Linked DNA regions of Homo sapiens: region 2 is linked to region 1. Evidence: fine-mapped expression QTL. A gene starts in region 1. The other region holds a variant in brackets. All regions are shown on one strand. Distances are between the middles of the regions. Region 1 holds the start of H19 (H19 imprinted maternally expressed transcript). Region 2 holds the start of FAM99A (family with sequence similarity 99 member A).

The links.
Region 2: its variant is fine-mapped to the expression of H19 in lung (TOPMed, PIP 0.97).

What each region holds. Positions count from the first base shown.
Region 1 is chr11:1,995,470-2,000,832 of GRCh38, forward strand. It overlaps H19 (H19 imprinted maternally expressed transcript), which reads right to left and starts at 2,373. Exons shown (of 5, transcript NR_002196.3): 1 at 1,049-2,373; 2 at 818-952; 3 at 610-722; 4 at 407-529; 5 at 1-325. It overlaps MIR675 (microRNA 675), which reads right to left and starts at 1,362; the gene lies at 1,290-1,362. It also overlaps a transcript of MRPL23 not described here. RefSeq lists enhancers at 1,885-2,732, 2,733-3,581, 3,582-4,428, 5,278-5,363.
Region 2 is chr11:1,665,300-1,670,662 of GRCh38, forward strand. It overlaps FAM99A (family with sequence similarity 99 member A), which reads left to right and starts at 300. Exons shown (of 3, transcript NR_026643.1): 1 at 300-465; 2 at 1,136-1,244; 3 at 1,403-2,557. The variant G/A (reference allele first, on the strand shown) is at 2,796.

The DNA.
Region 1 (5,363 bases):
AATGACTTAGTGCAAATTAAATTCAGAAGGGACGGGGGAAACAGAGTCGTGGAGGCTTTGAATCTCTCAGAAAAAAGGAAAGACAGGAAAGCTCAGAAACAAAGAGACAGAAGGATGAAAAAGAAGAAGAGGGAGGTGGTGGGGACGGCGTCATCCCGCTGGAGGAGCTCAGCTCTGGGATGATGTGGTGGCTGGTGGTCAACCGTCCGCCGCAGGGGGTGGCCATGAAGATGGAGTCGCCGGTGCGGGGTGGGTGCTGCGGGCGCTGCTGTTCCGATGGTGTCTTTGATGTTGGGCTGATGAGGTCTGGTTCCTCTAGCTTCACCTAGAGATAGCGACACGTGGGTGGGATGGGGGCAGGGTGCTCGGGGGCCTGGAGGCTTCCGGAAGGAGCGCTGGTGCTCACCTTCCAGAGCCGATTCCTGAGTCAGGTAGTGCAGTGGTTGTAAAGTGCAGCATATTCATTTCCAAGCTAGAGGGTTTTGTGTCCGGATTCAAAGGCCCAGGCTTGAGCTGGGTAGCACCATTTCTGTGGATGGGGAAGGAGTGAGGTCCCACTCAGCTCCTCTCGCGTGCCCCCCACCCCAAGTGTGGCAGGAAGCCCCTCACCTTTCATGTTGTGGGTTCTGGGAGCCCAGAGGGCAGCCATAGTGTGCCGACTCCGTGGAGGAAGTAAAGAAACAGACCCGCTTCTTGCCGCAGCCCCACCAGCCTAAGGTGTTCTGTAGAAGACAGAGGTCGGGGCAGTGAGATGGTGGCCCGGCGGGGCGGTCTGGGCAGGGCCGCGTCCTGACGCAGGGAGGGCAGACACGCTCACCAGGAAGGCCGGACGCGCCTCCTCTGTCCTCGCCGTCACACCGGACCATGTCATGTCCTGCTTGTCACGTCCACCGGACCTGGCGTCTTGGCCTTCGGCAGCTGGTGGGCACGTCCACCCCAGCTGGAGACCTGGCTGTGGGGAGAACGAGAGAGTCGTGTGGGGAGAACGTGTTGGTTGTGTGGGGAGGGGCGGGTGGGGGCTGAGGGTGGCAGAGGGGGAAAAACTCACCCTCGTCTCCAGCCCGAACGCTGAGGCACCGATCCCGGCTCCGTCGCCGCCCGCGAGGCCCGCCTTGGCCACGGGCTCTGGAGGCCAGTGCCTCCCGCTCGCCGCCCGCTGCGCTCCTCACCCCTGCCTGCACCATCCTCCCTCCTGAGAGCTCATTCACTCCGCCCCGCCCGCCTCGCCTAGTCTGGTCTCGCCCCATGCCCTTGACTCCCCTGGATGCTGTACTGTCTGCCAAGCCAGCCCCAGGGGCTGAGCGGTGAGGGCATACAGCGTCACCAAGTCCACTGTGGGCCCTCTCCGCACCAGACCCTGGGCCGCAGTGCCTCGTGGGACCGGCGCCCGCAGGCCGAGCCCCTGCAGCCTCCTTGCTGCGCAATGTCCCGGGGCCCCCCTCCCGTGGCCGCTTCGCCCTCCTGGTGACGTCCTGCTGCAACTCCCCGAGCACTGCCTGTCTTCCCGCTCTCCAGCCCTCGAGGCTCCGGCATAGGCCTGAGAAAGCCGTGCCGGAGCTGCCCCTGTGCCTGCTACTAAATGAATTGCGGTGGGTGAGGTGGCAGCTGGGGACCCCTCTGTCCTGTGTCCCCTGCCATGTCCCTGTCTGACCCAGGCCTGGGGTACCACCCCACGTGCTGGACCCTACGCTGGCCACCCCTGTGCTCCCTCCCTGCCCTCTTGCTCTTTCTGCCTGGAACGGGCCCATAACCCCCCAGCCTTGCGCAGTCTCGGCTCCCCCCGAGAAGATGTCACCTTTGCTAACTCTCCTGCCCCCATCCTGCCCCTCTGCTGGGAGGGTGTCTGCTTCTCCCCGCCAGCCCTCGATCCCCTAAACCTCCTTCTTTCAGAAGGCTGGGGAAGCGAGGCCTGGGGAGGGAAGGGACTCACCTGCCCGGCAGATGGGGTCCTCACCTGCCCGCTGCTGCCAGCTACACCTCCGTTGCCCAGGCCCTGGGATCAAACCCTGCCCACCAGCTCCCCTCGTCCAACCAGCTGCCACGTCCTGTAACCAAAAGTGACCGGGATGAATGCCTGGCTCCCCCTTCTTTCCAGCCCTAGCTCAGGCCCATCGTCCCCAGCTGATGTCGCCCTGTCTGCACGATGCCTGGGCGCCTACTCCACACTCCTCACTGGCCTCAGGCCCCACCAGCCCTGCCTCGAGCTAGCCCCTCCACCCGTCATCACTCCTGCCAGACTCCAGATGTCCAAGGTGCTCCTTGGCTCCCACAAGCTCTCCTCCAGCACCCCATCTTCCCCTGGTTGCCCCTCGGTTCCCCACTTCCCCAGTTTCCCCCGTTACCCCCCACCCATCCCACCCCCTCCCTCACCCTGCTCCTCGGTCCTAGCCCGGGCTTTTTCTAACTGGGGTGGCCCCGCCCAGAATTCCCGCCCCTGCCCTGCCGGCCAATCAGAGCAGGGCCCTCCCGAGGGCCCCCGCAGGGCCCACCTCCGCCCTGGACAGTTCCAGCACACGTCTCTCTCACCCAGCACCCATCCTGGAATTCTCCAAAGACGGCCTCCCCGCACCCCTCCTTTGGCATCCGGAGACAGGGCTGAGCATTGCCCCATCACCTCCCTCAGGGTCCAGGACTTCTCCCTCCCAGACCACTGTCTCCCCTCAGGGGACACCATGCCTGCTGCTCCCTGCCTGCCAGCGCCCTGCACATACTTTGCACATGGCTGGGGGCCAGCTGCGGGTCCCTGGGGACTCGGATGGCACAGAGGGCCCCTTCCTGCCACCATCACGGCTCAGACCTCACGTTCCTGGAGAGTAGGGGTGGGGTGCTGAGGGGCAGAGGGAAGTGCCGCAAACCCCCTGGTGGGCGCGGTGCCAGCCCCCCAGGCCGATTCCCATCCAGTTGACCGAGCTTGTGCTGGTCACCGCGGTTTCCGCAGGACAGAGTCCCCACAGCCGCTGGGCACCCCGGTCCCATTCGCGGCCACTTTCCTGTCTGAAGACCGCATGTTGCCGGGCTGTGCTTACGGCTCGCGGGCGCACTCTACTGACAAGCGGTGGGCGGCCTCACAGACTCTCCCAGGCCCGCGTGGGGCACCACGGTTGGGAGTGGAGTGGAGACTGGCGAGTTTCGACTCCCCCAGCCACCCCGCTGTGGGTCCGTCGGTCACCACCTTGGCCTTTGGTGAGGGTTGTTGGGGCCCTGCAGTCCCTGGGGTTCACCTCAAGTCTCGAGTGTCAAAGCCGTGAAGGGGAGCACCAGGGCCAAGGGACCCAGAGTTCACGGGTCCAATCACCCAGCAGGCCCTCTGGGATGTGGAAGGGCTGGCCGCGCCTTCGGCAAACCCTCTGTTCCCATGGCCCCACCGGAAAGGGCTGAGTGCTTGCCTGCTGAGCACTGACCGCCGGGCTTTGTCGTGCGTGAACCCCACGACATGGGGGAATTTCCATGGCATGAAAATTCTCAGGCTTTTCCATGAGTGGACCCCCAAGTTAGGAGACCAAGGCAGACCCCCACATTTTGCTAAAAGTGGAGTCCAGCCTTGGGTCACCTTCAGACTGTGATGTGAGTCACCACTGCCGCCTCTCGGCCATTTCCGTCTCCACAGCCACAACCGATTCTGTGCCATCGCTGGGAGATGGGCTCACTGGGGACAGCACCCAAGACCCAAGGGGAGACTCAGGAAATACTCCGGAAATACAAATGCTCCAGGCAAGGCGGCTCCCCAGGCCCCTCGCTCCTGCTCCAGGCATTGTGGGAGGGGCTAGCACAGGATCCGGTCGTGCTGCCAGCAATGCGCAGGCACGGGGAACACCTGTGGGCAAATTCACCTCTCCACGTGCCAACTACCGCCGGCCGGACGTGATGATCCCTGAGCGTGGAGCACACCCGAGCCATCGAACATCCTAACCCCATCAGGATCCCCACCCCGTACCGAGTCCACAAGCCGCAGGGTGTCTGCTGCACCCACGATAATGGATTATCTCCAGCAACACAAGGATCCTGGACCAGAGAATAAAGCAGCAGTGGCGCTCCCAGCTCTTTAGCATCTTAAGCTCCTGAATTAGCACCTCAAACCTGCATTGAATGAGAATGTTAATGTCTGGCCACTTAGGGCTGAGGAGATCAGAGTGTTCACTGGGGAGGCAATTGTCAGTTCAGTAAAAGGCTGGGGATTTGGGGGCTGTCCTTAGACGGAGTCGGAGCTGTGCTCTGGGATAGATGTGGAAAATGTAAGATTTTGGTGGAACACACTGTGATCATCACATAAGTAGGCGTGACTTGAGTCCCAGGCCATGACACTGAAGCCCTCGGAGTGTGACCCGGGGCCACGGGGCTGTGGATAATGCCCGACCTGAAGATCTGGTGCGGCTCCCATGAGTGTCCTATTCCCAGATGACCCCCGTGAACCCTGCGACGCGTGGCTTGGGTGACCCGGGACGTTTCCACGGGCGAACCCCAGTTGGGGCGGGCTCGGGCTGTGATGTGTGAGCCTGCACTGCCGCCGCGCGGCCACTTCCGATTCCACAACTACAACCAATTCCGTGCCATCCAGGCGGTGAGACCGAAGGAGAAGCCTCCAGAAATACCCATGTGCTATGCAAGAGCCCCCGGGCTCTGTGCCTGCCAGAGACCCTGCGAGAAGGGTTTCACACTAGGGCCGAGATCCCCATCATCCATGGAACTGGGACACCTCATTGTTCCCCTAGTATCTCCTCCCATCTCCCCAACCTTCAACAGTGCACCCTGGGGTGAATCAGACACGTAGCCCGATATGGCTCCCATGAGTGTCCTATACCTCACGACCCCTGTGAACCCTGTGGCGCCCGGCTTGGATGACCTGGGATGTTTCCACGGGCGAACCCCAGCTGGGGCGGGCTCAGGCTGTGATGTGTGAGCCTGCACTGCCGCCGCGCAGCCACCTCCGATTCCACAACTACAACCAATTCTGTGCCATCCGGGCGGTGAGACTGAAGGGGAAGCCTCCAGAAATACACATGTGCTATGCAAGAGCCCCCGGGCTCTGTGCCTGCCAGAGACCCTGCAAGAAGGATCTCACCCTGAGGCCAAGATCCCCATCATCCAAAGAATGGGGACACTTCATTGTCCCCCAAGTATCTCCTCTCATCTCCCCAACCCTCAATAGTGCACCCTGGGGTGAATCAGACACATAGCCCGATGTGGCTCCCATGAATGTCCTATCCCTGATGACCCCCGTGAACCCTGCGGCGCCTGGCTTGCGGGACCCGGGACGTTTCCGCGGGCGAACCCCAGCTGGGGCGGGCTCGGGCTGTGATGTGTGAGCCTGCACTGCCGCCACGCGGCCACTTCCGATTCCACAGCTACAACCAATTCTGCACCAT
Region 2 (5,363 bases), 330 kb before region 1:
TCAGGTGACGACGCCATTCAGAAAGTAGATCTCATGGGGTGCCCGGCTGCTGAGTCTCAGGCCAGATCTGCAGTGAGTGTGCTGCCCCAGGCGTGGAACACTCTGGTGCCATCGGGACCCAAGGCTGAGTGCACCCAAGAGCTGTGGGTCTGAAACAGCGGTCAGAGGTCACTGACATGTGGAGGAGGCCCCTGGAGTGTGGGAGACAGAATCCCCAGGTGTCAGGCTTGGCAGGAGGCTTTGCAGGTGGGGAGGAAGGGCAGGTAGCGTGGCTGCCGGAGGAGGGAGGGCACTGGTAGGAGGAGGGTGGCCTGTCCCGGGCAGACCAGCCTCTTTGGGCTGTGTGGCCCCAGCTCCCTGAGCCCAGAGGGAGGTGAGGGTGAGAAGGCCTGGACCAGGCAGGACGCAGCCCCCAGGGCCCCTGCTGGGAAGAGGTCAGAACCTCCCAAGGACCCAGAAGGCCAGGTAACTGAGAACGGGGCTGCTCTCTGAATCTCCAGGGAGGACAAAGGCGGCCATGGCAGCAAGGGGACAGGGCAGAGGGAAAGGCCGGCAGGTGGATGTTGGAAGCCGCAGATTCCCATCCAGTATCCTAGAGGAGGAGACCCAGGGCTGTGTCCTAGGAGGCCCAGGAAGCCTGGTCAGCCTGGAGGCTGAGGGCGGGCCCGGGAGATCTGGTAAGGACATCAGTGTCTCCACGAAGAGCAGCAGGGTCTCAGCCCATGGCAGCCGCAGGCCCCATGACTGGGGCCGCAGCCTCCAGAGCCGCCACAGCAGCCCGTTGTTCTGGGGGGTCAAAGGTGGAGGCTGTCAGAGGGGCAGTGCAGGGGGCTGCTGGGGTGAAGCCCCCTGTAGCAGCAGCACCCAGCCTGCTGTGGCTCTGCCCTCCTGGACCCCCTGCCCTCCTGGACCCCCTGTCCTCCTGGACCCTCTGCCCTCCTAGACCCCCTGCCCTCCAGGACCCCCTGCCCTCCTGGACCCCCTGTCTGTGGCCCCTGCTCCTCTCCTCCTTCCCCGACACATGACTGGACCCCCCGATCTGCAGCCGGGGTCTGGGCACTGGGGGTCCTGTGGACCTCTCGGTGTCTGGGGACAATCACAGGTTCCCGTGCCCACACCCAGCCTCTGCTTCCAGAACACACTAGAGGGTCCCGGCATCCTGATGAGTCCACTGTCCCCGCGATGGTTTTCAGGGATGGAGAAGGCTCCCTGTCCTCCGCTGGAACCCTGCAGCCGGGCTGACGGTACCCCCACCACCCACCCAGGGGCCCCAGACCCTCCCCATCTCCACCGCCAACCCAGGCCCCGGCTGCGCACGCGGGGCCAGGCCGTGAGCTGCTGTCCCCGGATGGGGCCGCCCCGGGCTGGCCTGGCTCACTCCGTGTCACAGATATTCCCACAGAGACCCCAGCGAGACCTGCAGAACATTACAGCAGAATGAAGGAGAGCCAGAGGAAGAGGCAGATGTGCTGGCCTGTAAACAGTCTGATTTCCAATGTAAACCAGATTCAGGCCCACGACATCAGGTAAACATCTGCATCAGAGCCCCCGGCCCCCCACCGCCCGGGAGGCCCCGGGGTCCACACGGCCGACTCTGGGACCCGTCACAGTGACCGCCGAGACATTTCGTAATTAGGCAAAATTGATCCTTGCATTCCTTCCCTAAATCCCAAATCTCTGCAATTTTACTTCTTCTCAAAAATGAAAACATTTGGCAATTAGCTGATCCAAGTGAAAAAGGTAGAGAATGTGCTCTCAACTGGAAAATGCCAATTAAGGAAGCAGCTCTGACTTCCCACCCGCCCTGGCTAAGCTGGGAGCTTATCTTCCCCGAGAAGAATCTGCTGGGATAAGGGGGCTTGGGAAACACCGAGGGCAGGGCTGCCTCCTCAGCTTCCTCTGAGAGCAGATTAGCCGTGGCCTTGTGCCAGCAGGGCCTGGGTGCCACACAGGGTGGCAGGGGTGGCAGAGCCGGGCCCGGCTCTGGTACTGGGATTTGGGGTGGCGGGACCCAGTGGGGCACCCGCTTGTGGGCGGCACTGAGGGCGGTGACGTAGGCAGCGGGTGCCGGTGTCTGCCCCTCCATCTGGCCGGGCTCCCCACCCTGCTCCTGCAGCCCTGGACCTCAGGGCCCATTTGCGGTGCAAGGCGGCTCTTGGCCATTTTGCCCGCAGGGCCCTACCTTGGGTCTTGGGAGCTTCTGTCCCTTGCCCTCTCTTGTCCAGGTCAGCATCTCCCACTGTGGGAATCCTATGTGGCCCCATCGTCTGGACAGTGTGGGTCAGGTCACTGTGGCTGTTTTGTGATGCGTGTGTGGGCTCATCCCTCAGTGCTCAGAAGCTGCAGACACTATGGAACCGCTTTTCAGGCCCCGTGGCCGTCACCCCCGCTCTAGAGACTTGATTGCAGGGACCATGCCCGGCCGGCCTAACTGCACCCCTCACTCCAGGTGGGTGGGGGGACCCAGGCCTGCTGGCCCCTGTGGTGGTGCAGCCCAGAAGGTGTGAATCAGTTTACACTGTTCAGTGCCTGAATAAAAGTCACAGGACAAAGAGGACTTGGTTGCACAAACTACTGACATGAAATTCACATTTTGTCCTGAAGGAAACGCAAGATGAATTGAACTCATGTTCAGTTTTTATTTCTCATTTCTCCCGCCTCAGTCTCTTCTCACGTGCACGACCTCACAGCGCTGTCACAAGGCCTGCTGGGCACACGCAGCTCATAGAGAAGTGATGGCTTCCTCCTTGCCCCCTCACCTCCCTCCTTCCCCTCTCCCCCTCACTTCGGAGCAC[G/A]CAGGCTGATTGTGGAGACATCTCCCAGCCAGGATGTGTCAACAGGGAATGTGCTGGGGACAGCGGGAGTTCACAGCCACCCCCGCAGGCGCCTTCCTGGAGCACGTCCACAGGCCATGTGCAGCTGCATCCCCCACGACGGCAGGGACAAGTTCCTTCCATAGGGCCCGGGTGGCCCCCAGAGCTGCACCATTTATGATCCGGTCCTTTGCAGAACGCAAGGGACAGACACATGAACCCTGACCTAGGTTCTTGTGCAGAAATGTTCTCTCATCGGAATAGAAAGGTATGAGTCTCAGGACTGGTTCTCTGCAAAGCAGCCATCGGCCTTTCAAGCAGAAACCATGGAGCCCCCAGAGGCTGAGTCTTCCAAGGCGCTGGGAGACTTGGCGTTTGCCTCTTTTTTAAATGCAATGACCGTTGCAGTGCATGGAATCAGAGACATGTATCTATGCGTAGAAATGAGTCTGTAAACACGATCAAGGTGTGATTTCTGTATGACAATGCAGTTGGATCAGAAATTGGAGAGTGCTGGCCGGGCGCGGCGGCTCACGCCTGTAATCCCAGCACTTTGGGAGGCCGAGGCGGATGGATCACTTGAGGTCAGGAGTTCGAGACCAGCCTGGGCAACATGGTGAAACCCCATCTCTACTGAAAACACAGAAATTAGCCGGGTGTGGTGGCGTGTGCCTGTAGTCCCAGCTACTCGGGAGGCTGACGTGGGAGGATCACTTGAGCCCAGGAGGCAGAGGCTGCAGTGAGTAGAGATAGCACCACTGAACTCCAGCCTGGGCAACAGACTGAGACTCCATCTCAAAAAAATAAATAAATAAATAAATAAATAAGAAAGAAAAGAAGAAATAGTGGAGTGCTGTGGTCACTCTGGAAAAAGAGGAGGGACCCCACCCAAATGTGGTTCCTCCGTCAACCCTGAAGACGCCCCCACACACCGGGACGAGATGAAAGGGTCTGGTACTTACCTAGCTGGGCTTTCACGGGGTGCACGGTGGCTTCAGGAAGGGAGCTGGCGTGGGGCTCTTCTTATGCCTCGGGGGTGGGGTGATGGCCTCACATGGGCAGGAGCCTGCAGGGCTTGAGCCTCTCACTGGCACCAAAGACACCTGCCCTGCTGTGGGGCACACGGGAAGAGGGATGGGTGAGGTGTCAAAGCAGTGAGCCGTCAAACATCATAAAAACGGAGTCAGGCTCTTTATTGCAGGAAACAATTTGCGGCTTTCTGTGCAGAGAGCAGGGGGGATTTGAGGTGGGCTTTGTAGAGTGAGGGAGTTCACCAGATTGACAGTGTGGGCTGGGTCACCCTGTGCAAAGCAGCGATTTCCATGTTGCCCCTGAGAGAATGTTTTCCTGTGATCTCCAGCATCGAGATTTAAAAATTATCATGTTCATAGTCTGATGATAAAACATTAATTTTTAGGAAGGCAGAGGACCTGCCTGCTTTTCCTGATAAGACCTCGTTCCATTGCCCTAGGTCAGGCATGGATTATTAACTCTCAGGGTTTTGGGGGACCAGCAGCCACAGATGTGGAGTCCTGGGGAAAGGGTGACAGCCTCCTCTGCCTCCGGGGATTTGTCCTTCAGTGACTTGACGCCCGCAAGAGTGGATGCTAATTCTCACCGTCCCCATGAAATCCCTGCTGACGCATGCTGCCCAGGAGACATCTCCACAATCAGCCTGCCTGCTGGAGAGAGGAAGGAGGGAAGCGAGGGTGCAAGGAGGAAGCCAGCCCTTCTCTGTGAGCTGCATGTGCCCAGCATGCCTCATGACAGCCCTGTGAGGTGAGAGGAGACTAAGGCGGGAGAAATGAGAAGCTTGCCCGAGTCACGCAACCGAAGCACAGAGCCAGGGTCTGGCGCCCTGAGAGGTCCTGGGTGCATTGGATGCTGTGCACGTACTTCAGCAAAGAGGCAGGATGTTGTCATCTTCCTTCGGAGCCAGTAACATTTTCTGCTGCCAGCAAGGAAAGAACATTGGATCACGCGCCTCCATGCAGGCAGGGTCCTTCAGTGGCGCTGATCCTGAGCCCAGCCCTCTCGTGGTCTGTGCTGACGCCAGGGCCTCTCGTTGGAAGGCCTCGTGCTCCACAGTTCCCCCACAAAGGGGAGGATGCTGAACTCTTTACCTGTAATTCTGGCCTCGAAGCAGCTGTTTTCTGCCTGGCTTCTCACCCCAGCCATGCACAGTGGAGGTGTCAGCAAATCCCTGGAGAGAAAGCCCGGTGGACACAGGGTTCCTTTCTCTGAGGCTCCCTTTCCCTGGGATCACAGTAGCTGAGTCGGGGTCTCCAGAGAAACAGAACTGGGGGTAGGGGGGTGCATAAAGTGAGAAGGAGATTTATTATAAGGCGGGGACTCATGGGGTAATGGAGGCTGCAAGTCCAGCATCTGCAGTGTGGGCAGTGTGGGTAGTGTGGGCAGTGTGGGTAGTGTGGGCAGTGTGGGTAGTGTGGGCAGTGTGGGTAGTGTGGGTAATGTGGATAGTGTGGGTAGTGTGGGCAGTGTGGGTAGTGTGGGCAGTGTGGGTAGTGTGGATAGTGTGGATAGTGTGGG